Linked DNA regions of Homo sapiens. The protein of the gene in region 7 purifies or fractionates together with the protein of the main gene of each other region. This does not show direct contact. Each region holds a gene or a part of one and is shown on either strand. Other genes may lie near its edges.

The links.
Region 1: the proteins of FSTL4 (region 7) and PCSK6 purify together in Homo sapiens (affinity purification with mass spectrometry; one large-scale study listed by BioGRID and IntAct). This does not show direct contact.
Region 2: the proteins of FSTL4 (region 7) and BMP1 purify together in Homo sapiens (affinity purification with mass spectrometry; one large-scale study listed by BioGRID and IntAct). This does not show direct contact.
Region 3: the proteins of FSTL4 (region 7) and ABHD12 purify together in Homo sapiens (affinity purification with mass spectrometry; one large-scale study listed by BioGRID and IntAct). This does not show direct contact.
Region 4: the proteins of FSTL4 (region 7) and ETV3 purify together in Homo sapiens (affinity purification with mass spectrometry; one large-scale study listed by BioGRID and IntAct). This does not show direct contact.
Region 5: the proteins of FSTL4 (region 7) and EIF2A purify together in Homo sapiens (affinity purification with mass spectrometry; one large-scale study listed by BioGRID and IntAct). This does not show direct contact.
Region 6: the proteins of FSTL4 (region 7) and FOXRED2 purify together in Homo sapiens (affinity purification with mass spectrometry; one large-scale study listed by BioGRID and IntAct). This does not show direct contact.

The regions. Positions count from the first base shown.
Region 1 is NC_000015.10:101,392,208-101,395,707, reverse strand, and holds part of PCSK6 (proprotein convertase subtilisin/kexin type 6 isoform PACE4-AI preproprotein), read left to right. Parts: intron 1-2,283; coding exon 2,284-2,496; intron 2,497-3,500. UniProt on the Homo sapiens protein: Serine endoprotease that processes various proproteins by cleavage at paired basic amino acids, recognizing the RXXX[KR]R consensus motif.
Region 2 is NC_000008.11:22,206,872-22,210,371, reverse strand, and holds part of BMP1 (bone morphogenetic protein 1 isoform 3 precursor), read right to left. Parts: coding exon 3,391-3,500; intron 3,070-3,390; coding exon 2,856-3,069; intron 928-2,855; coding exon 677-927; intron 1-676. UniProt on the Homo sapiens protein: Metalloprotease that plays key roles in regulating the formation of the extracellular matrix (ECM) via processing of various precursor proteins into mature functional enzymes or structural proteins.
Region 3 is NC_000020.11:25,321,336-25,324,835, forward strand, and holds part of ABHD12 (lysophosphatidylserine lipase ABHD12), read right to left. Parts: intron 2,096-3,500; coding exon 1,990-2,095; intron 1-1,989.
Region 4 is NC_000001.11:157,131,896-157,135,395, forward strand, and holds part of ETV3 (ETS translocation variant 3), read right to left. Parts: intron 2,333-3,500; coding exon 2,217-2,332; coding exon of another isoform or gene 2,185-2,216; exon of another isoform or gene 1,250-2,184; intron 1-1,249. UniProt on the Homo sapiens protein: Transcriptional repressor that contribute to growth arrest during terminal macrophage differentiation by repressing target genes involved in Ras-dependent proliferation. Represses MMP1 promoter activity.
Region 5 is NC_000003.12:150,549,787-150,553,286, forward strand, and holds part of EIF2A (eukaryotic translation initiation factor 2A), read left to right. Parts: intron 1-2,569; coding exon 2,570-2,639; intron 2,640-3,500. UniProt on the Homo sapiens protein: Functions in the early steps of protein synthesis of a small number of specific mRNAs. Acts by directing the binding of methionyl-tRNAi to 40S ribosomal subunits.
Region 6 is NC_000022.11:36,493,541-36,497,040, reverse strand, and holds part of FOXRED2 (FAD-dependent oxidoreductase domain-containing protein 2 isoform 1 precursor), read left to right. Parts: intron 1-786; exon of another isoform or gene 787-832; coding exon 833-1,074; intron 1,075-3,237; coding exon 3,238-3,408; intron 3,409-3,500.
Region 7 is NC_000005.10:133,200,042-133,203,541, forward strand, and holds part of FSTL4 (follistatin-related protein 4 precursor), read right to left. Parts: intron 2,002-3,500; coding exon 1,892-2,001; intron 1-1,891.

The DNA.
Region 1 (3,500 bases), on a different chromosome or scaffold from region 7:
TGTGAGTTTACTGAAAAGAAGTGCAAGTTCATGGCTAGGGTTGAAATGTCCCCTACAGCTTCTGTCCCATGGCTTCCATGAAGCCACTGGAAGATCTGGGAAGTGAAAATAAAGTCGTCAGAGACAGTTAAAACATCTCTACACTCCTCAGACCTGGCTGTTTCCTCGCCTCATTTCCATGTCTCCTTCCCAGAAACCGTTTTAAGGAGGGGAAAGGTTGTTGGTACCTTGATGCCTATGAGGATGGGTTGGTCTCATAGTAAATGCATGCTACATGCTGTAAATGCAAACCTTGAGCATTTCAGGCTCTTGGTATTCAAAGTGGGGTCCAGAGCCAGCAGCACTGGCGTCCCCTGGGAGCTCATTAGGGATGCACACTCTCAGGCCCACCCTGGACTTTGGGGCACAAGTCTGCATTGTAACAGGTTCCCAGGTGACTCCAGGGTGTGCACATTCAAGTTTGGGGAGCACTGTTTTTGGCCATTCTCTGCTCCTGGAGCAGTAAGGTTGCATGCTCCACCTTGCAAAAGGACAACATTTTATAAGTCATTTCAAGTGGGGTGGGGAGTTAGGAGTGGCAGTGTCTAGGACTAATTCTCACCTGGAATAAGGACAGGCTCTGATGGGTTAAATACCTTTTGATTTGCATTGTAGTTGCTTTAAACCGGCTTCAGCTGAATCTCTTCCTGCAGGTAATCACGTGCACACACACACCACCTTCCTGAGCTCTTTGTGCCTTTCTCTCAGAAGGTTAGCTTTTCTGGGAGGGACCTTTCTGTTGAGCTCTTGGCCACCCCGACAGGTTCACCTTGCAGATGCAGAAAGCAGAGTGGACGCGGCAGCCTTAAGCAGCGGGGCTGCGTGAGCTCCAAGAACTTTCCTGTGGGCTTTCTTGGGAGCCTCAAGTTGGAGCTGGAGTCTCCTTGGTTTACAAACCCCCGTGGTGTGAGCGTACAGAGCAGGCGGGTCCACTCATTGTGCTCCAAAAGTGAGTGTGACATGTTTGGTCAGCAGCAGGCTTCAATTTGGCTCTACGGGGATTGCAGAATTGGTGTGTAAGTTATCTTTAAATTGGCCGATTGTTGAGCATAAGTATAAATTTCCTCTGTTTGTTTGGGAAGGACGGTCCTTAGTAAGGATGTGATGGCCAGCCAGTGGCTCCAGTTTCCCGTGGAGGTGGATGCTGGCCCTTCTCTCGGGCCAGCTGTGCACCACCAGCCCATCCAGCCATCTGGACTATATCCGTCAGTTCAGTCTTCCACTCGCTAATCTTTAGCTGGTACTTGTGGCTGGAATGATTCTCAGTGTGGTCAGAAATCATCCATCCTGTGGGTATGGGATAGAGCGGAGCTGCAGGAATCTGCCCTGACTGGCTGCTGTCTTTCAAAGACTTGCTTTCATGTGTACGTTCTTAACAATGAACACCGGTGCACAGCTGGGCATGGCGGCACACTTCTATAGGCACAGCTACTCTGAAGGCTAAGGCAGGAGGATCACCTGAGCCCGGGAGTTCCAGACCAGCCTGGGTAACGTAGCAAGACCCCTGTCTCAAAAAAAAAAAAACAAAAAACAAAAAAACGGAAAGAAAACCTACACACAAATGAGGCCCTGGCCTTGGCTAGTGATATAAATCAGACCACCCTGATACTTACCCACTGCAGAGACCACAGGGAGCTCTGACAGGACACCCACAAGCTGCTACCAGCTTCCTGGACGTAACCCTTTCCACCTATTCTGTCTTCACGCAGAGTTCATGGTCCTATCCCTCTTTGCAAATTTAGCTCTCTCTGCAAGAAGGGTACCTCTTCAAGTATGTTTTCCAGAAAAATCATTCTTTTCCCCACCAGACCAGCTCTTTCAACCCAGAAAAATTAAAGTTGTAAATTCTTCCATCATCTGTAATCTCAGTGTCATTTGCAGCACTGCTAGCTCTCTTTGATCCTAGGCCATTGCGATGGAAATGACAGGCATGGCTCTGGAATAGAGCAGCTTGTGTTGGGACCCTTGATTTTCCTGTGAAGAACAGAGGAGTCTTTCTGGCCCCTTCCCCTCGTATGATCCTGTGATTCTGCAATTTTAAGGCTGCTGCTACAGGCAAAGGCACACCATTAAAATCCAAACAGAGCCCCCAAAACCATGCTCTCAGCAGCATCCAGATGGTCTGAATGCAACCTTCTTATCCCTTTGAAGGAACATTTGGGAGATGGGACTCTAGGTTCGGGGGGAGACCCACCCTACGAGGTTCTGCTGCGGGGCTAAGCCTTGTTCCTCTTGTCCCTCCAGGGCCGGCAGGGCCTGGGCTCCATTTTCGTCTGGGCATCTGGGAATGGCGGGAGAGAGGGGGACTACTGCTCGTGCGATGGCTACACCAACAGCATCTACACCATCTCCGTCAGCAGCGCCACCGAGAATGGCTACAAGCCCTGGTACCTGGAAGAGTGTGCCTCCACCCTGGCCACCACCTACAGCAGTGGGGCCTTTTATGAGCGAAAAATCGTAAGTTCTCTTGGCAAGTTGGAGTGCTTACAGTGAGTGCCTCAGCCCTCTGGGAATGAGTTTCTTCTCCCTTTCTCAGAAAGATGGCTTAGATTGAGGCCAGATTGTTCCGGATCCCAGGGTCCCAGCCTCACCCATCGGCGAACAATTTGAGCCTGGAGGTAAACCCCAGTCCCTTGGCAGCCTTCCTCGGACACTGGCTTTCTAATCTTTGCACAGAAATAGCAGTTAAACCCCTCTCTGGCTTTAGAGATCTAAAAATATTATTTAAGAACGAGGTTCCTTCTCATGATGTCTTGTTTTAACTCTGAAATTCTGTGGTCACATGTCTTGGAATCCAATGAACCCATCCAGTTCCAGCGTGTACAACAGAGTAAGAGAAAGACTTGGTTTTATACTGAGACATTCTAGAAATCCAGGAGTTCTTCTAGGCATTCTGTTGCTACAGAAGCACTTTTTCTGGACACTTTAAGTCGAGCAGTGGTTTCTGTCTGTTCCGCTTACTTAAGTGAACATAAGCATGATTTGTCTTTTAAAAGGTAACTGTTTTAGTACTCAGGTAGAATTTGTGCTTTTTCCTTCCCTACATACTTTCCTACTTAAAAAAAAAAAAAAAAAGAGGAAGGGAGGGTTTCCAGTTCAAATTAATGCAGAATTGAAGTGCAAAGTCATTACGTTGACTTGTAGACATTTTAAAAATGAGACTGTGGAGCTGGCCAGACATGGTTAAATTTTAAAGCTCACTAGCATCTTTTCATTTCTGCGGCTGCTCAGCCACATCTTTCGAAGTTATTTGCAAATTTATTTTTACACTTTTCTGTGGGAGCATACAGGCTTCCTGTTCTCGGCTTTGCTCCGCACCAGTGAAAGGTCAGCTGCCATCGTTCTGTCGCCAGCCTGGTAGCAGCTCGGCCTGGTTAACTAAGGTATTAATTTGTTATTTTCCTTTTCTGCTGGAGTACGCACCCCTGGGACGGGCAGCTGAGATGCTGAATGGTGTCCTG
Region 2 (3,500 bases), on a different chromosome or scaffold from region 7:
AAAAGAAGAAGAGGCAGCTGCAAGCTCTTACAGGGAGGAAAATAAATCCTCCCCACGAGGCTAGCCCATGTCCTTAGGGAAAAGCCCATCAAGCCTACTTTTGCTCATTGACTCTTAACGTGCCATTTTATGGACCAAGAAGCAGTGCCCAGGGGCCACTGGGACAGCAGCAGCAAGAGCTTTGGGACAAGCTGGCCTTTCATCAGGAGGAGAAACTGGTAGAGGAAATGACAAGAGTGTTTATGCCTCCGGCAAAAGGACTGGTGAGGGCCACTCCGCTCAGGCGCCCTGTCCCCGGCTCTGGTGCCAACCTCTGCCCCCCATTCCAGGCCCTGGTGGGCTGCCTTGGGGGAGGGGTAAGGAAAGGAGGGACAGAGGAAGCTCCATCCGCTCCAGGCCGTGGCCAACTGGTTCTGAGGCAGGCCTGGGTCAGAGGCCGCAGGAACTTCTAGGTTGCCCAGAAAGGACTTGGTTTCCTACGTCGGGGATGGGGCAGTGTCTCTGAGTAGCCCCAACAAGGCTGGGCTTCTGGGCTCCCACACAGGGCCACACGCGTGCTGCACTCAACTTCCGGGGCCTGTGTGGGCGCTAGGTCTTGGAGACTGGGCTGAGAAGGGTGGAGGACAGTGTGGGGCGTGGGGCATGGGGCCAGGAGGGCGAGGGGTGGGGGCCTCACCCCTGAGCCACAGTAGCGCCCCAGCCTGGGGGCTGTGCTGTCGTAGCCGTCGAAGAGCTCCATGTAGTCATAGCCGCAGTCGGTCTCCTCCTCCACCTCAAAGGTCTGGAACACGAGCTCCACGCCGTAGCCTTCCTCGGCCACAATGACCCACTCACAGTCCACACCCCCAGGGTAGTTGTTGTCGCCAAACTGGGCGTGGGAGTAAAGGTCCTTGGTCTTCACGTCTGCCCGTACCTGGCCCCCGCACTCTGTAGGGGACAAGAGGGGCCAACCAGCCCTGAGCACCGCAGGTGCCAGGCCCCATGGCACACTATGCCATGGCGTGCCCTCACGGCAGGATGGAGGCCTGGGTGAAGGCCACGAGGCCAGTGATGGGTGGGTGGGGGCCTGGCCCAGAACATTGCTGTGCTGCCCCATCTCTAAATAGAGGGACCTTGGCCCTAGGCTGAGGGGAACAGGCAGTGAGGCTCACCGAGAGGAAGACAGCATGGAGCGGTGGCACGAGGCACCACACACTTTGTCTAAAGAGGGCATTGCTCATTTTCTCCAGCTGATGGCTGTCATGGAAGAATGTGGGCCCAGTGTCGCCACAGCTTCCATTTTCAAGAGAGAAGCCGTACATCTGGGTTTTATGTGAAAACTCCTAACTTTTAAGTGTTGGCTCACATTTTTAAAAAAAACACAGTGTGGGCCAAACATAGCAGGTCTGAGGGCCAGATGGAGTTCCGGGCCTCCGGTTTGTGACCCTGTGCTGGGAAGGGCAGAGGACAGTGCATGGGGCCACCCTCCTCCCCAGGCCCTCTGGCTTTTGTGCACCTGGCACTCAGGTCTCGCTAGAGGAGGTGGGGAGAGGGAAGGACGGGGCTGGGTCAGGGACTGAGTTGAAGGGGAAGAGGGGAGGCTGTGGACCATCAGCTCTGGGGATGCCCTGACAGGTGGCTTAGGACCCAGGAGGAGACTGCAAAGCTCCCTCGTGGCATCCTTGGTCTGGCACTCAAGGCATCCCCCTGGACTCCAGCCTTTCTCTGCAGCCACATCATTCCCACAACCTGCTGTCCTCACACACCCATTGCTTCGGCCAAAGTAAATGACCTGCTGTCACCTGGGCACACTCTGGGCTGGGCTGGGGTTGTGTCTCTGCCTGGGCACCTCCCCCTGCCTCGAATGCCTCTACCAACACATGCCCAGTTAGGCCGGGGTGCCTTTCTTCCTGCCTGGCTCCCGCTTGGGCTCATGCTGTCACGGGCGGTGCCTGCCTTGTCTCTCTCCTGGACTGCGAGTTCCTAGTATGGGGTGGGGGGCAGGAGTGAAGGGCTCATGCCTGATTCAGGCCACGTGCCCCTTAGTCCTCTCGCAGAGCGGAGCTCAGTTCATGGCTGCTAAATAAACAAGCAAGTGAAAGCCGAGCAAGCCCCTCAAGGGCTGGGATCTTTGCTTGGTCTGTTTCTGGGACCTGCATTTAGGATGCCGCCTCATCCATGTTACATGTCAATAAGTATCAGGAGAATGGGCTGGGCACGGTGGCTCACGCCTGTAATCTCAGCACTTTGGGAGGCCAAGGCGGGCGGATCACCTGAGGTCAGGAGTTTGAGACTGGCCTGGCCAACATGGCGAAACCCTGTCTCTACTAAAAATACAAAAATTAGCTGGGCATGGTGGCAGGCTCCTGTAATCCCAGCTACACGGGAGGCTGAGGCAGGGGAATCGCTTGAACCCAGGAAGTGGAGGTTGCAGTGAACCAAGATCGAACCACTGCACTCCAGCCTGGGCGACAGAGCAAGACTCCATCTCAAAAAATAAAAAATAAATAAAAATAAAAATAAAAAAATAAATATCAGAGAATGAATAGAGTATATTTCAGGGTTGGTGTGTGGCTGGGCTGCTGCGGTGGCCCGCGTACGCTCAGGGGGACCTCTGGGGGCTTTCCTCTCTGTCCCTGAGTTCCCTCACCTCTCCTGTCCATCGTCATCACTGCCATCCTAACCCCTAACCACACCCTCCTATCCCTGCCCCCCAGGCCTGGTTCTCAGGACACAATGTTTGCATCACCCACAACCCTGGCCCTGGGTCGCAGGGCTCAGTCCCTCTGTACCTTCATACCCGCATTGAAACCCCCGACTCTACCCCAGTCTTGGAGACCAGGCTCAGTGAACACTCCCACAACCGGGGACAGTACCTGTGGCGTGGGAGGCCTGGAAGCCCTTTCGCTGGACCGAGTTATCTGAGTAGAAGCGCAGGAACATGCGGCTGCCTGTGGCCAGGACGGGCTCGGGCTTCTTGCTCCCACAGAAGCGGCCGAGGACGGGGGCCTTGGCGTCTCGCCCGTCGAACACCTCTAGGTGGTCGTAGGCACACTCAGGCTGGGACTCGATGTCCATCTCCATGAAGGTCTAGGGGGATGAGGAAGGAGCACAGATTAAAAATTTGGCTGGAAGGCAGGTGGGGCAAGGATGAGGGCCCCAAACCTAGGCCTCACAGATACCCATGGGAGCAGCCACAGCTGGGGATGACAGTGAAGGAGGGCCCAGGAATAGGGCGAAGGCAGGGACGCCCCTAATTTATACTGGGAAAGGGGCCTCTGTCCAGGCCAGACTTGGGGTCTCCTGGGGATGGCAGACCTCTGGGCTCAGCCTGCAGCCTGTGTGGCTCTGGGCAGTGCCTCTGACCGGGGGCAGCCACACCGCATAAGGAGTGGGGAGGGGACCCCTTACCAGCTTGACCCGGTGCCCGGGGGTGCTGGAGATGGCCCACGTGCACTCCTTCTTGCTGGGATACTTGTCAGGCCAGTTGGGGCTGGTGATGGTACCACTGGTGGATGTCA
Region 3 (3,500 bases), on a different chromosome or scaffold from region 7:
CAGACAGGCGATGGCCAGGCATGGCCAGGAATGGCCCCCAGGCTCCACTCTAGGCCTTGAGGCCCTCCTTTCAGGAAGCTGGTGGGAGGGTCTGATGAAGCGATGGTGGGGGCAGTTGGTGAGCTGGGCCTGCTGCTGCCTGAGGGCCCAATGTCATTGTGACTGCCTAGGGCATGAGAGTGGGCAGCAGCCGCACTCACCAACACGCACCCACCAACACACAGCAACACACAGCGTGGCTGTCACTGCCTTGACACTTGCCACTGACATCACTAAACAAAACCTTTTCTGGTAGCTGATAATGTATGCAGGAGTTGTTAGTACTTCCAGCCTAAGTCTCACCACCATAAACACCCTCCTGCAATAGGACAGACTCATGTTAACCAAGAAGAGGGCTGACCAAGTCCCACTCAGCAGCTCTGTGCAAAACAAGTCATGCTTCAGACAGAAACCTGAGGAGTCCCACAGTCACACATTGGTCAGTAAATGCTAGATTAAATCAAATCAGGAAGTGACAAAAGACTTTAATCCCAGCACCAACTACTAAGAACAAAAATCTCCCTTCTTGTTTTATGTTCTTTACCAAGGACCACTGTTAGAAATGTCTGAATGTTCTCTCATCCACACTGGGAAGCTACTCACAGCATTTCATTTAGAAGCTTCTCACATACACAGTGGTTTTCTGAGACAGTGGAAAGCGACGTTATGGCTACTGAAAAATAAATTCAGCTAGATAAAAGGGCTGTGATTCAGGCTCACTTCTCAGAGAAAAACGGAAATGCTACAGTGAGGTTGGTCAATTTTAATTCAGCTGTTCAGAAGCACCACTTGTGTACAGAAGAAAACATTAAAATGTATTCCAAGGAGACACAGAGAAGTCACAAGGCTTATGTCCAGTGTAAACTTATGGCTTAAAAAAGTAAATACTCAGAAGACAGCCAACACCATCATCATCAGCTGGTGCGAAGCTATATGTGAAAAGAAATCAAGCTGTTTTCAGTATCTAGATGTTCACCTCTTGGAAAAGATATATATATATATATATATTTTTTTTTTTTTTTGAGACAAGAGTCTCGCTCTGTTGCCCAGGCTGGAGTGCAGTGGCATAATCTCAGCTCACTGCAGCCTCTGCCTCCTGCGTTCAAGCAATTCTCTTGCCTCAAACTCCCGGGTAGCTGGGACTACAGGCGCGTGCCACCATGCCCAGCTAATTTTTGTATTTTTTTTTCAGTAGAGACGGGGTTTCACCATGTTGTTTAGGGTGGTCTCGAACTCCTGATCTCAAGTGATCCACCCGTCTCGGCCTCCCAAAGTGCTGGGATTACAGGCGTGAGCCACCGCGCCTGGATGGAAGATATATTCAAACCAGTGTTTGTGATTCTTCCCTTATATTCTCTTTTTTTTGGACACAGAGTCTTGCTCTGTCATCCAGGCTGGAGTGCAGTGGCGTGAACTCAGCTCACTGCAACTTCTGCCTCCTGGAGTCAAGTGATCCTCCTGCCTCAGCCTCCCAAGTAGCTGGGATTACAGGTGTGCACCACCATGCCTGGCTAATTTTTGTATTTTTAGTAGAGATGGGGTTTCACCTTGTCGCCAAGGCTGGTCTCAAACTCCTGGACTCAAGTGATCCACTTGCCTCAGCCTCCCAAAGTGCTGGGATTACAGGTGTGAGCCACTGTGCCGGCCACTTATATCCTGTTTCTAGCTTCTTTGTTTGCTTTTCGTTTTTCCTAGAAACAAGTCTCTCTAAAAATAATAATCTGTTCACAAAGCCTTTGCTGTTTTGAAAGGCTGGGAATAGAGTTTAAAGCCATTGAATCCCTCAACATTAGGATGGATCAAATGTACTGAGATCTTTCCTTTAGGAAAGGAAGAGGTGAAGATAAAAATGAACAACATTTCAGAGGCCAATGTCAAAGACAGCACCAGCTCAGTCATGTAGGGTCCTTTCCTGCTGCTGGAGGGGCTGCAGAGCTCACTGGCACTCACCAGACTCCAATGGTCACGTCTTCCTCTGGCTGCAGGTAGTAGTTACACGTGTGATTCAAACCTTGATCCTGTGGTTTTTTCAAATCAATGAAATAGGGAACTCTTACTGTAGGAAATAAAGAGATGGAAATTAGGATTACTGGTGGATGAATACACACATGTACACACAAACATGCATACTCACACACGTGCACAGATATGCATCCACACGTGCACACACACACATGCACACCCACATGCACACACTGCAGAAGCTCTCAGAAAGCACCAAGTCCTTTTCCTGTGCAATCTTACAATGGTGCCAGACCTGCAGGCCCAGCCTCAGGCAGGGTATGGGCTGAGGCCAGCCAGCATGGGCAGGGACAGAGACTGCAGTGAGGGCAAGGTCTGTGTAGAGACTGGAACGCTAAGGTCTAAGGTCATTCTAGGTGTGAGAAGATGCAAATGAGGGAAGGAAAGATCCCCAACAGGTCTGAAGGATGGGCCAGCCAGGAGGGAGGCTGGGGAGGCTGAGCCTGCGAATAACTCAGGTGCCTGGTGGAGTGGGAAGGACAGCAGGAAAGGGGATGGCGCTGCAGGACCTGATGACCAACGGAACGTTGGGTGGCAAACAAGGTAAAGGGGATTCCAAAGTTTCCAGGACTGCTGCCTAACACAGAAAAGACAGCAGAAGGTGAGGTGTGGGGCAGCGAGGGGGATGAATCCATAGGACCCATGCAGAGCAGAATGAAGTCAGTGCAATGGCCCAGCAGAAGTCCTGCATCTACCAGGTCATCTGCCAGCAGGACAGCGAGTGAATTAACCAGCACCTCACACTGTGGAAGACCATGGGGCCCTTAGACCTGGAGGAACCTCCAGGACCTGCGGGCAGATGAGAGGAGCAAGGTGACTGTGGGTGCGGGTGCGGTAGCCCCACTTTGTTATTGTAAAAACATGCAAATGAAACACGACCTCCACATGTGGCTGGGAGGATATACAGAAAGACAGAAGCCAGGCTGCTCACACAGCTTCAAAGTGTGTGTGTGGGGAGAATGGGGGCAATTTTTTCCTTATATACCATTGTAGTCTTACTGCTTTTGGTGAACACAACTTTAAAATAAGTTTAACTGAAAAACAAAAAATTTAAAATAAACGCATGAACCCTGAGGTGGGATTTGCCTGCTTTATAAAATGGCAACTCCCAAAAGAGGCAATGACAGAGAGCAGTGTGGGCCTGGCTTCCCTCTGGTGGGTCCTGCCCCCGGGGAAGCTCTGCTGCTGACAGCTGTCTCTGGTGAAGACAGGGGTTGCGTGACTCCCATGTCCATGTGGCACATTGCACATCTAGCCTCACTTCCTCAAATGTCACCAGGCTGGACTCACGAGGACATGGGGACATACACACTCCTTCCCAGAAACTCCCTGAGCGTCTGTCCCAGACCATGTGGGGAGACAGTTCCTACCACCAGGGCTGCTGTTCATACCCCACCTTCTTACTCCATCTCTTTCCCAGGAAGCAGATACATCTTCAA
Region 4 (3,500 bases), on a different chromosome or scaffold from region 7:
GTCTATACCTAGGATGTGAGCAACCAGGTAGTAGAGATAGATGTACTAAAAGAAATGTACACAGTTTTGCTTTCCTTGTGCTTTATTGAGACTGAGTCTCGCTGTCGCCCAGGCTGGAGTGTAGTGGCATGATCTCAGCTCACTGCGACCTCTGCCTCCCAGGTTCAAGTGATTCTCCTGCCTTGGCCTCCTGAGTAGCTAGGACTACAGGTGACTGCCACCTGTACTTTTAGTAGACATGGGGGTTTCCCCATGTTGGCCAGGCTGGTCTTGAACTCCTGACCTCAAGTGATCTGCCGGCCTTGGCCTCCCAAAGTGTTGGGATTATAGGCATGAGCCACCTGGCCCGGCCCCTTGTGGCTTTTTGATTAGGATCTTGAGCTTGGGTTAAAGATCAATGTTGGTTCAATCGCCTTCGGGCAGAACAGGTGTGCTGGGCCACTATTGTTAGGTTTCTAGATCAGATTCTTCACAGAGTGAGGATCCAGGTTTCCTTGCCCTGGAAAACCACATTACTTCCCAGGGCTTATGAATGCCCCATTCTAGGTTGTCCAAGTGGCTGAAGTTCTGGATTTTCAATAGATAAAAATGGGTCAAAGACAGAAGAACAAGACGAATGAAACATTTTTTTGGGAGTGGGGTGAAGGGGTATGAAAACCAACAAATTCTTTAAAATTGTTGGTATATACATCTAGATTCCCAATTCCTCTAGGCATACAAGGAAGGGGCAAGAGTGAGAAACAGAGGAAGCAAGATTTGAGTGGCGAGTACAGGTCTGATTTCCTAACGCCTCTCCCTCAGGCACAAGGAAAGAAAACAGGTTGTAATTAGAGAGATGCATTCCAATACCACTTTTTTTTTTTTTTTTAAATGCATGCCCCAGGGACAGGAGGGAGTGGTTACAGAAGTTGAGATGAAACTGTAATGATAGCAGAGTCAAGCTAAAACTGCCCTAACTTGTTGTGTAGTAATTACATATCTGCAATGGATCTCAACATTATGTTCTCTCAACCACACCCCCACTAATTTTTCAGGTTTCTTCCAGCTTTTCTGAGAAGTTGTATTACTGCATGATCAGCATTCTTTGCCTTAGCATACAAGGCCACAATGACAGAGTACTTACTGATGGACTGGTCAGAAAACAGTTAAATACAATCTACAGTAGTCCTTTCTTATCTGAGGTTTTGCTTTCCACTGTTTTAGTTACCCACAAAGGTCTGAAAATAGGTCTGTACAGTACACAAAGATATTTTGAGAAAGACCACATTAAGTTTATTACAGCATATTGTTATAATTTTTCTATTTTATTATTGTCATTAATCTCTTACTGTGCCTAATTTATAAATTAAACGTTATCACAGATACATATGAGTGGGGTTAAGGGAAGAAAAAACATCATATATATGAATGGAGTTTGGTACTATCTGTGGTTTGCGAATCTACTAGGGGTCTTAGAACATATACTGCTCAGATAAGGGGAACTACTGTATTTTCTTGGGCAGGAGTATGATTTGCATAAGGAAAAAAATCACAAACAAAAAACCACACAACAACAAAGTCTTTTGAGAGACTGCTTTCAACATCAAGAGAGAATGTGGGGAGCTGTGATGGAAAGCTATAACCAGGAAAGTCAAGAGGGGAAGCCCTACTGCACTTAACAGGAGAGAAGGTCAAGTAACCCCAGAATCTTTTTCTCTGAGGATTTGCTGTTGCAGATCAAAGACACTGCTTTTCACTGCAAACATGTGAACCTCCCCCTTCTCTGATCAAGGATGCTGTGGTTTTGATGATATTCACTTGATAAGGGAGAGCTTGGTAGTTTCACAGAAAATCGGAAGTGTTTGTAGAAACAGGTTCCCATCTATGAAAGAACCACTGGGCTGGGTGTTAAAACTGAGTCCTGAACGTAAAGATCATCACAAACCTATGAAACATCATTCCCAAACAAGATAGCGTAATAGTATCTAGGAGATTACAAACAATATGCAGAAAAGGGAACCAACCAAATAAACCAAAGAAATCTATCTTGATACTGAATAGCCTATAACTCTCCTTATAAGTGAGATGACTTGAGTAAGAACATTGAGGCAATCCAAAGGATCACATTATTTTAGTGTTTCTAAAATCTTCCTAAACATGCCATGTCTTAGATTTGGATTTTTAAAAATTCTTTTCAATTCAAAATTAATTCCCTACCAAAAGAGTTTGTATCTTACCACTTGACCGAATGTTGATGAATGGGTAGTTGGGCATCACCAGCTTGTTGAAGTTAAATTTATAGGTAAATCTTTTCCCTTTTGTTTTATGAAGGATCCTCTTGTTGTAATAGTATCTGTAAAAACAGGAATACATGTCCATTCGTCTTGTAGCTACTGACAGCTTTCAATACACTTAGGTAGCCACTGAGACCAACAATTCTTGCTCTGAGTATTACTTACAAAAATCACTACCAATCTTTCGCAGCCTGGCCCTCCAGGTAGATCTAGGAGACCTAACAGCTTAATTTTCTTACTCAATTTTCAACTCAGCTCGTTTTTGCCTAGAGGTTTACAAAGACAACTTCACTTTAAGATTCTGAACACTTATCCTAGCCCCAAACATTTTCTTCTCCATCTCTCTACAATTTCGATTCTACAGTCCATTTCCGTCCGGTTGCACTGCATGTCACTAACTGCTTAGTTTTTCTTTTTGGTCTTGCCCAGGTGGGGGCAGACAAATCACTAGGGAGACCTGATGTGGTTAGTCTGGAGGCCTAAGCTCAAAAGACAGACAAAGGAATGTACAACTGTTTTATGGTGGCAGGTCAAACAATGGCATGCCCTGATCTGGAAAACAGCAGCTAGTGTGGCCCGCCTCACCTTCAAAGACTCAAAGGGATGTGAAAGAATACAGCAAAGCCACTGTACAGAGTTTACATTTCAGGTCAGGAGAACTTCAATTATCTGGAACCTTTAGTCTTACATCTATGCAGTAGCAGAGGTCATAAACTGCCTTCTAGCCCCTTGAGGGCTAAAGGACTATGAAATGTAAGACCGACAAGGGGAAAAAAGAACCTGAGAAAACTTATAGTGATCAATCTTTAGACATATTGCAGCAGGCTATGGACAACCTGAGCTCACAGACACAGTTCCGGAATAGATAGGTCAGTATCACTGAATCTTCCTCCCGTGACTTGCTTCATCCTTTTCTAAGTTTCTTTCAGGGAAGCCCAAAGAAAGAAATTCTAACAGATTCTAATAGAGAAGTCTAAACTAATCCTTTGGATTATAAATGAACTCCAATCCATGTTTCACCATATACTCTCGCCCACTACAGAGCAGAATCAGCTGTCTGTCAGGATCCAGTGCCAGCCACATTGGAATCCCCTCCTACGTATAACCAAAGATATGCCTTTTCTCCTCCTGTGCCTATGCTACTCACATTCAACAGCTCTTCTACTCCCACTTTAAAGTGACACATTATTCACTAAGATAGTGTAGTCTTTTATTACCTGATACCCT
Region 5 (3,500 bases), on a different chromosome or scaffold from region 7:
GGTTGCTAGGCACATAAAACAGCAATGTCCATTACGTGAAATTCACATTGTCTAATCTGCTTGACCAGTTGAAGTCACAGAGATAATTTATTCAAAATTGAGTGATTTTCCTAAACTAATACATAGTTCAGTGAATGTAAGAGTTGGGAAAAGTATCGTATTTTAAAGATGACTACACCCCTGCCATGGGATCCTTGTTTATTGAAGCCCTGTGTTTTTCTCTCTCTAACTCAGGCCTAGAGCAATAAATAGTATATGAATGTCTAAAAAGGCTAGTAAGCTTGGAAAAGATTATGTAGATGTTTAATGTATTTCACACAGCTACTGTGTGAAACTGGCGTTTATTTGTTGTCTTAAAAGAACTGCTTGCATTCTAGATTTTTCTTTCTGCTAGAACATATTGCCAATCCCATTTGATTGAAGAGGGAAATCACTAAAAACAGGGAATCACACAAACTCAGAATACACTATATTAAGCTAACTACGCATTGTATTTAGTTTCACAGATACTTGTAACTAAAAAGGATTCCTTGTTAGAAAGTTACATGTAGAAAAAAATTGTTTCAGTATTGAGAAGTTTTTTAGTCCCTATTTATTTTTGCTTTTATTAGTTTAAAACAGTTTATGTTCTGTTATGGACCTGATTTTGTGTTTTTTTCTAATAAACTTTGTATCACAGCTTATCAGGAGTAAATTAAACTGTATATGCTTTTATTAAATTTATTTAATAGAAAAACTAATTAAATCTAGCAAGGCATCTTAGAAGTACAAAATGTCAGTTTGGGCCAGGTGGCTTACAGCTGTAATCCCAGCACTTTGGAAGGCTGAGGGAAGCAGATTGGATTGCTTGAGCTGAGGAGTTTAAGACCAGCCTAGGCAATGTAGTGAAACCTCGTCTCTACAAGAAATATAAAACTTAACATGGCTTGGTGGTGGGTGACATGATCATGGTTCACTGTGGCCTTGACTTCCCAAGTCCAGGTGATCCTCCTGCCTCAGCCGTGCGAATAGCTGGGACTACAGGCATGTGCCACCGTGCCCAGCTAATTTTTGTAGAGACAGCATCTCCCTATGTTGCCCAGGCTGGTCTTGAATTCCTGGGCTCAAGCCATCTGCCTGCCTCGGCCTCCCAAAGTACTGGGATTACAGGTGTGAGCCACCACGCCTAGCCTGAGCCCTATTTTGTTTTCCAGCTTCATCATCCTCTAGCCACACAGGCCTTCTTTCCATCCCCTTGACGCTCTGTCGTTTTTCTTTCCATGGGGTTTTTGCACTTGTTAACTGTTCTCCTTGCTTGTTAACTGCCATTGATCCTTTACATCTCAGTATACAAAACACTTAAGGATGCTTTCCCTAACCTTCCATTTTTAGGTTAAAACTCTCTTTTATACCCTCAGTGGTACCATATACCTTTCCTTTGAAGGACTAAACACAGGTATATGATTCCGTATATTTGGCCAATTATTTGATTACTGTTTGCAAAGTTCAATGAGGTCAGAGACAAGGCTGATTTTCTTTCCTATTATTTCGCCAATGTTCAACACAGGGCCTAGGAGGTAGTTTGTTCGTTTTTTTCCCACTAAGCATTTGTTGACTAAATGAATCTATTTATTTGGTTCAGCTTTAGAAGCATTTAATTCAACCATTTAAAAAAGTATAGTCTAGGCTAGGTGCGGTGGCTCACACCTGTAATCTCAGCACTTTGTGAGGCTGAGGAGGGAGGATTGCCTTAGCCCAGGAGTTAGAGATCAGCCTGGGCAACAGTGAGACTCTGTCTCTACAAAAAAAAAAAATAGCCAAGCAGGGTGGCACATGCCTGTAGTCCCAGCTACTTGGGAAACTGAGCCAGGAGCATCACTTAAGTCCAGGAGTTTGAAGTTGCAGTGAGCCTTGATCATGCCACTGTACTCCAGCCTGGGTGACAGCAAGACCCTGTCTCAAAAAAATAAATAAATTTAAACATAGAAATAAGAAGTATAGTCTAGTTCTGTAGATGATTATTTAATCTTGAACTTTGTTTCCACTTAATTTTTTAGGCTATTACTGTCATTGGGGCCTTAATAAATGAATATGTCTCATTCCACTTGTTCTCTTAGTTTGATAAATTGTGAATATATTAATATTGCCTTATATTTCTAAAAACTTTAAACATATACTTTTTTTATTACTTTATATAAAGCATACAGCTATCCTGTGTTCTGATATTTCCATTTTACAGATTAGGTCACAGATTCAGAGGTGGTAACGTATCCAAGGTTCCACAGGCAGTTATAAACTTAGGTCAGGCTCTGAATTCATGTCCTCTTTACCACAAGACAGCTGCCTTTCTTTCAGTGGTGACAAAGTTTCGAGTTTTATTTAAAAAGTTACGTATTTCTCAGCAATTATATGATTTTATGTAACAGAGTAAGAAAATATGCCCTTTTGTTGCTAATATTCTATAGTTCAATGAAATATTTAATGATTTCATTAATATTTTGACTAAAGCTGCTTTTTTAAAAAACACATTTGTGTTAACTGAGTCTTTATTAACAAAGTAATTGTGGTTCTTTTTATTTTACTTCTTTAGTCCGAGGATCAGAAGGACTGTACATGGTGAATGGACCACCACATTTTACAGAAAGCACAGTGTTTCCAAGGTATGATTTATTTTGTTAAGTAATGTTATAGGGAACATACAGTACAATCTAAAATGGTTTTGTTGGTGGTGTATTTTGAACAAGAAAGGAAAAGAACAGATGAACTCATTTTTATTGTATAATATTTACCGAAGATGAAAAGAATACATATTCTCTATCAAGGAAAATGATCTTCAGATCTGAAAATAGTAACTTAAGCCTATTTATAAGGTAGGGGGAACAATACTAAGAAAAAGTGTAGACACTAGTGTAATTGAATACAAGCCTTTATTTTACAAGAGTTGTATCTTAAGGAATGAGAAAAACTTGCAAATTTGATAGCCAAATCATGGCCAGTAATCTTAGTGAAATCATAATGAAAAAGATATTAAAAAGGGAGGACATATATATGCACATAGTATATAGCTAGCTAGATTAATTTTTTTTTCCCCAAAGAAACAATGGACAAGTAAACCAAAAACTAGTTAAAAATGCTTATCTATAGGGGGAGAGAGTTACAGAATGCGGGGGAGAGAGTTACAGGATGCAGGGGACACATCTGTGAAAGAGCTTTGGTATAGTTTTGACTTTGGACCATATAATTGTTTTAAATTTAAAAATTAAATTAAAAGCTGGGCCCGGTGGCTCACGCCTGTAATCCCAGCACTATGGGAGGCCAAGGCAGGCCAGATCACCTGAGGTCAGGAGTTCAAGACCAGCCTGGCCAACATGGCAAAACCCCATCTCGGCTAAAAATACAAAAATTAGCCGGGTGTGGGGGCAGGCGCCTGTAATCCCAGCTACTCTACTCGGGAGGCTGATGCAGCAGAATCGCTTGAAACCCGGAGGTGGAGGTTGCAGTGAGCCAAAATCAGGGCATTG
Region 6 (3,500 bases), on a different chromosome or scaffold from region 7:
ACCTGGCTAATTTTGTATTTTTAGTAGAGACTAGGTTTCACCATGTTGGCTAGGCTGGTCTCAAACTCCTGACCTCAGGTGATCCACCCGCCTTGGTCTCCCAAAGTGCTGAGATTACAGGCGTGAGTCAGCACGCCTGGCACCCCTGTCTCAACACCCCACATGCAAACCATGGGCAAGTCTTGTCACCTCTGCCTTCAGATGATGTCTGGAGCCCAACCAGCTCTCACCTGCTCTACCACCACCACCTCGGTCCCGATCACCAGGCTGTATCACCTGCACCCATACAACAGCCGCCCCACTTGGCCTGGCGTCTGTTCTCAGCACAGTAACCAGAGTGGTCCTTAGAAACCTGAGGCATGCTGATCCCAGCTCTGCTCAGTCCTCCCAAGCAACCAGCAGTGTCACCTCTCGGGCCAGACGACTCCTCACGTCTCGTCATGGGAGGCGCAGCCCTCCTTGACCTCTCAAGGCCTCCGGCCCCCTCTCCTGCCCTCTGCCTGCTGTTCACTCCCCTCAGCCACGTCGGCCTCTTCTGTTCCTTGAACACAAAGTGCTCACATACTCCTCAGGGCTTTTTCCTGACTGTTCTCTCTGCCTGGGACACTCTTTCCCCAGATATCCCATTCAGGTTACATGGAATTTTCTGGTCTCTACCCCACATGTGCGTGAGAGCTGAGCTGAAAAAGTAATGTTAAGTGAGGGGTGTGCTGCTTGATTGACGCTCCTTAGAGGGGGAGATACACACGCACACACACATGCTCACCCCCGGGCTGCACCCCTCACCTCTGCCACAGCACTGAGGGCCTCCCCCGCGTTGCTGTTCTCCCAGGAATTCCACGGCCTTTGAGTACCTGGAGGAGTTCCCCATACAGATGCTGGCCCAGCTGGAGACACTCACAGGGAGGAAGGCAAAGCACGGGCTCTTCGTCATCAACATGGAATATGGCAGAAATTTCTCTGGCCCCGACAAGGACGTCTTCTTTGATGACCGGTCTGTGGGGCACACAGAAGATGCCTGGCAGTCTAACTTTCTTCATCCTGTCATCTACTACTATAGATACCTCCCCACCGGTGAGCAGGTCTCTGCCCTTCCCCAACCTGTGGGCTCCTCAGACCTCACCGTCTGCAAGGTTGTCACCCACCCTGAAACCTTCACACACATGCTCAGCTGACAGGTGGGATGGCTGCGGGACTCTGCCTAGAGACCACTTGGGCAGAAGGTCCGAGAATGATGAACGATGCTTCCAGATTCTGACACATACCGTGACTGGCACAGGCCATGCGGGGGGTGTCGTGCTCTCCGCCAGGCACTGTGTAGTAAGAGGGACACGGCCCTGCTGCAGGTCTCCAGAGGCGGCTGACTGTGGTGGGGCGGGAGGGGTCTGAAGAGTAGAGGGAACTGGAGCTGGTTAACACAGTACAGAGAAACTGGGCAAAATCCCTAGGCCTGTCATTTTGTCACTGTGTGACCTTGGACCATTACTTAACCTCTCTGAGCCTCAACCTCCCCTCTGTAAAATGGGGATTACAACAGTACCTTTCTTGTAGGGTTCCATGAGGTTAAACCTGACAGTGTACACAGAATGCCAGCCCACTGCAGGCACAGAGTAGCTACCAATAAGTGAACAACCTCGGGAACGCACCCCCTGCTTCAGAGCTTGAAGGGCAGTCAGGTAGAAGAGGGTGGTTTAAACAGGGGTTGTTCCCAAAGGCAGAAGTCGTGTCAGCAGGTAGCAGTGACGGGTGCAGGTCTGTGGTCAGTATAAGGAGGCACTAAGAGGCTGGGCATGGTGGCTCATGACTGTAATCCCAGCACTTTGAGAGACCAAGGCAAGCGGATTATAAGGTCAGGAGTTCAAGACCAGCCTGGCCAAAATGGTGAAACCCCATCTCTAAAAAAACATGAAAAAAATGCAAAAATTAGCTGGGCATGGTGGCACATGCCTGTAATCCCAGCTATTCAGGAGGCTGAGGCAGGAGAATTGCTTGAACCGGGATCCGGGAGGCAGAGGTTGCAGTGAGCCGAGATTGTACCACTGCACTCCAGCCTGGGCTACAGAGCAAGACTCTGTCTCAAAAAAAACAAACAAACAAACAAAAAGGCCGGGCGCGGTCGCTCACGCCTGTAATCCCAGCATTTTGGGAGGCCGAGGCGGGCGGATCACGAGGTCAGGAGGTCGAGACCATCCTGGCCGACATAGTGAAACCCCGTCTCTAATAAAAATACAAAAATTAGCCAGCGTGGTGGCGTGCGCCTGTAGTCCCAGCTACTAGGGAGGCTGAGGCAGGAGAATCGCTTGAACCCAGGAGGCAGAGGCTGCAGTGAGCCAAGATTGTGCCACTGCACTCTAGCCTGGGAGACAGAGCGAGACTCTGTCTCAAAAAAAAAGAAAAAGGAGGCACTAAGAGTTAAAGCTGTTCAGTGGGGGAATTGGTCACCTCCAAATTCAGGTTTCCCAGAATAGCGACGGCCAAGTCTTGACTCGATGGCCATCTGACTGGAACACCACAGAAGGGAGCCCACACCAGGGAGAAGCTGAACTAGATGAGTGCTGAGACCCCTCGCCTCTATCTGAGTCTTCTCAGAGAAAGGCCAGTTTGAAAGCAGCCACAGCCAGGCGCAGTGGCTCATGCCTGTAATCCCAGCACTTTGGGAGGCTGAGGCGGGTGGGTCACCTGAGGTCAGGAGTTTGAGACCAGCCTGGCCAACATGGTAGAGACTAGAAACCCCATCTCTACGAAAAATGTAAAATATGAGCTCGGTGTGGTGGCGGGCACCTGTAATCCCAGCTACTCTGGAGGCAGAGGCACAAGAATCGCTTGAACCCAGGAGGTAGAGGTTGCGGTGAGCCTAAATTGTGCCACTGCATGACAGCCTGGGCAATAGAGCGAGACTGTCTCCAACAAATAATAATACAAAATAAAAAGCAGCCACAGTAGATCTCAGTCCATGTGAGTCTTAGGGAAACGCCAGCCTCACGTTGTTAGCTTCAGCACTGCCTTCCGAAACCACAAGGGAAAAGCCTAGTTCCTCTTCCTCATGGCAGCCTTTCAAATATCTGCAGGTGGCTCTTGAACAGTCTGACCACAGCCCAGCATAGGAGGCTGTCGGGAAAGCCGAGCACGAGTGAACGAGGGAAGTGTTTGGGCTGTGTGGGATCCGTGCTGTGTCGGCCCGAGGAGGGGAAGCCCAGCCTCACAGCTCTGACATGGCCCCCTCTCTCCTCCCCACAGAACAGGAGGTGAGGTTCCGCCCTGCACACTGGCCCCTGCCTCGGCCCACGGCCATCCATCACATCGTGGAAGACTTCTTAACAGACTGGACTGCCCCGATCGGGCACATCCTACCTCTGAGGCGCTTCCTGGAGAACTGTTTGGACACCGATTTGCGAAGCTTCTATGCAGGTAACTTAAGCTCCCAGAAAGACAAAGGGTCTGAGCTCCAGGTTGAAGAAAGGTCACAGAGACCCAAGACCCGTGGAGTTTCAGGACCCATA
Region 7 (3,500 bases):
TTGGAAATGATTATGGAGGAAGGCGAGAGGCGCTTCAACTGCTTCTCCATTTATAATACTTATGAACTGTTTCCCTGAGGCCCATGCCAGCTAGAAAGGGGAGAGTCTGTGTCTGGATGGTGAGCATGGAGGAAAAGGGCAAGAGATCCCTGCCCCGATTCTGCCTGTTACAAAGATAAGAAAAGAGTTCTATATCCTTGCTGTTTTCTAGACTAACTGGCAAGTTAGAATTTGAGGATGCAGATGCAGCTGAACAAGTGCAGATGTCCTGTTAGTACCCTCTTCCCCTGGAAGGGAAACATGTAGGGGCAGTCTCTTCTCTGACCACATTGGTGATGCGGGTAGGAAGAACCCTGGGCATTGGGGTTGAGGACAGCTTTTCCCTCCGGAGCCAGATGGCCTGGTGCCGGCACACTGCCCTGCTAGCTGCAGAGCCTGGGGCAGGCTGCTTGCCTCTCTGAGCCTCAGTGACTGTAACCAGGTTAGCTCCTTCCTAGGGCTATTGGGAGGATTTGATCTAAGAGGGAACTTTAGCAGAGGGACTCAGGTAGGTGGGAGTTGCTCAAATCTGGATTTTCTAAAATTCCTCTTTGGAGGCTGGTTGGAAGTATGGAAAAGCCTGACTCCAGGCAGGACTTCCCTTTGATCTTGAGAGCCTGTGCCTAAATCCCTTGCTCACAGAGGCCTTTTGGTGCTGTGTACACCTGCAGGAATAGAGCAGAATCTCTTCTGTAGTTTTCTCTAGAAAAACTGTACCCCAGAGTAGAGGAAAATACTCCCTCCAAGGCACATCTTTAAAGCATCCTTAAAGAACCAGAGCATGGAAATAGCAAGAAAGAAAACTCTGCTCTTATAAGAAACTTTAAGTTAAAAGCCACACACAGGAACTGCAGAACCTCTGAGTGTGCCCGACCCTCAGCTGAATACAGCTGCTTTATGAGGGCTTCATCATTTAATATACTCTTAGAGGCTCTTGCACAGGCTCTCTCTGCAGTGGGAGGGTTCATAAAGTGGCTTTCTTCCTTGGGTGAGGGTGAATGGGTGCATCTCCAGCAACAACTTGCAAAAACGAATCATTTCTTTCTGCAGAGAGGTGCTTGATGGCGGATTATAGAAAGGTATAAATAGTGCTACAAGACATTTGGGGTCTTGATGGCTTAGAGACAGGCTTGGTCGTCTGGCAGTGGTAAGTTTACAGAAGATATTGGGGGCTCTCTGAAGTGAATACGGATGGGGACTGACCATGCTGGGCCGAGGTCTGCAGTTGAGGCCATGGCTCTTATTATTGGGTGGTTGTTTTAGGTAGTGGCAAACCATGGCAATCAGGAAGCCTTGTCTCGTTGTGGGCTCCCCACACAGATGCTCTGGGGGTTCCTAAAGTATTATGGGCTGTGGTTAGATGGGAATGTGGAAGAATGGTGCACTGAAACAAGACTTGGCTTTACATTTAGTCTGACTTTGCCAGTTCCTAGCTGTGTGACATTGGTCAGTGTCTTCACTTCTCTGATCCTCATCTATAACATAGGGGTTAAGACCACTGGGACTAGATTTTTGTGTCTAGCAAGCAGAGGGTGCTCAATTTACTGCTACTGTTTCTTTCTTTCCTCTGCTGTCTTTACCTTAAGGATGGGACTTCCTGACCTTTCTGGGCCACTGAGGGCATTAGGAGCTGGGTGCCTTCAGTATAATAGAGTTATTGACCCCAAGCAATGAGGACTAGGCTCTGGGTCTGTTTTACTGGACCTTCTCTGTTCCTTCGTGATGGGGTCCAAATCCAGCATGGGAGTGGAGGAGACAGAGAAATGAGCAGGTCCCATGCTGGGCAATGCTGCCCCTTGCAGGGCTGAGCTGGAGCGGGGAGTGCCTTAGAGGCATCATGGGCCAGTCTCACCTGATGTGGTTGATGATGAGGTTTGTTGGGGGAATGAAGAAATCATCCACTCCTGCAAAGGGTGTGCGGATGAGGTGCTGGCTCTGGCCGGTGCTGGCTTCTGTGATCACCTACAACACAGAGTGGGAATCCTAGTGAGGGCCCATGCAGGTGGGGGCTGAACCTGGAGACACCTGTACGCTCAGGTGGAGTCACCCCGGCAGAGGGGTGCTTGGGAGAGAGATGACTAACAAACCTCAATCTCAGGGAAGAGGCAGGAGCAAAGTGGGAGCAGTTCAGGCACATCCTAGGCAGGGACCCATTCTTCCTGAAAGAGGAAGTGGTGGGACAGGACTGATTGCCCGAATTGCTTCTGCCCCATGGTTAAGCCTGCCTTGCTGCACTTTGTCAGCCACCATGATGGCAGAGTGAGAACCTGAGGGGTGGTGGTGGGGTTTCCAAGGGAAGTAAGTCTCCAGAATGGAAACATCACTGTGGTTGCTCAGAGACCACCTCCTCTCGTAATGGGGAATCCTACCTTCTCAACATGTAAGCCAGGCTAGGGAAAGTGGGAGAGGGCTGTCAATCATGAAAATGTCACGTGGTGGAACTGTCTACTGGGAGTTCATTTTTCTCTGGTGCCAGATGCCTGGGCCAGTTTGTTGGTAGTCTCTGTCGGATGCTGCTCACAGGCATTCTCTGAGGTGCGACTCCAGGACTGATGAGAGAAAGCAGACATCCTACGGGATGCCACTCTGACATGCTGGGCTGTTGAGATGTCTTGCATTTAGAATGCTGGGAAGAGGTCCTGGTCTCACACAGGAGACTTGCTGTAGAAAGTCAACAATTAGGCCCTGTGCCTTGTACAAATTGGTAGTGACAGAGCACGGCTGCCTCTGTTTCCCTGGAGGTAACGCTTTCTCCCCTGTGGACTTGGCAGGAGACAAGAGCCTTTCCCTGGTGTGTGTCCCAGCTGCACTCATGTCAGGGAAGGCACAATGGCAGCTCTGAGCAGAAGCCAGGTGGTGTGTGAAGTCAGATAGGATGAGTGAGTGGTCTGGAGTCCCTGCCATGAAACCCCTGTGGTCAGGCTGGGCAGCCCCTCTGTCAGCTAGTGAGGCCCAAGCCAGCCAGACTGTGTCCTCCTGCCTTCTGCATATGCTCATCAGCCTTGAAGTTCTAGGCCACTGCCCAGAAAGCAGCAGACCAGTGGTCCGATGAGGGGCTTAGCCAACTTACAGGCCCCGAGAAGCCCAGACCCTCTGTGCAGGAGAGGAGGCAGATGCTGGGCCCCTGAACGGGAATGTGAGACACTTTTTCTAATCATGATATTGTGGCCACATGTGTAGAAAGGAGGGTCTAGATTTCTGCAGCCTGAGGCTTGGCCTGCAGGGTGAGAGCTGACTCTGGTGGGGGCTTGTGACTCCCATGGCTGAGAGCTCTGGATGCTTCTACTTTTTAGGAATGGAGCTGCCTTCTGGCTTTTACTTTTATGACAAAACAAACAGCACCTGGCCTGCCTCCTCAGGCAGGCTGGAGGCTTGTGTCTTTTTTCGTCTTGCTTTCCTCTGCAGTCAGCAGGCAGAGTGCTGGGCTGGAGTGATGCAAGCCATGATTTTCAGGTTTGAGG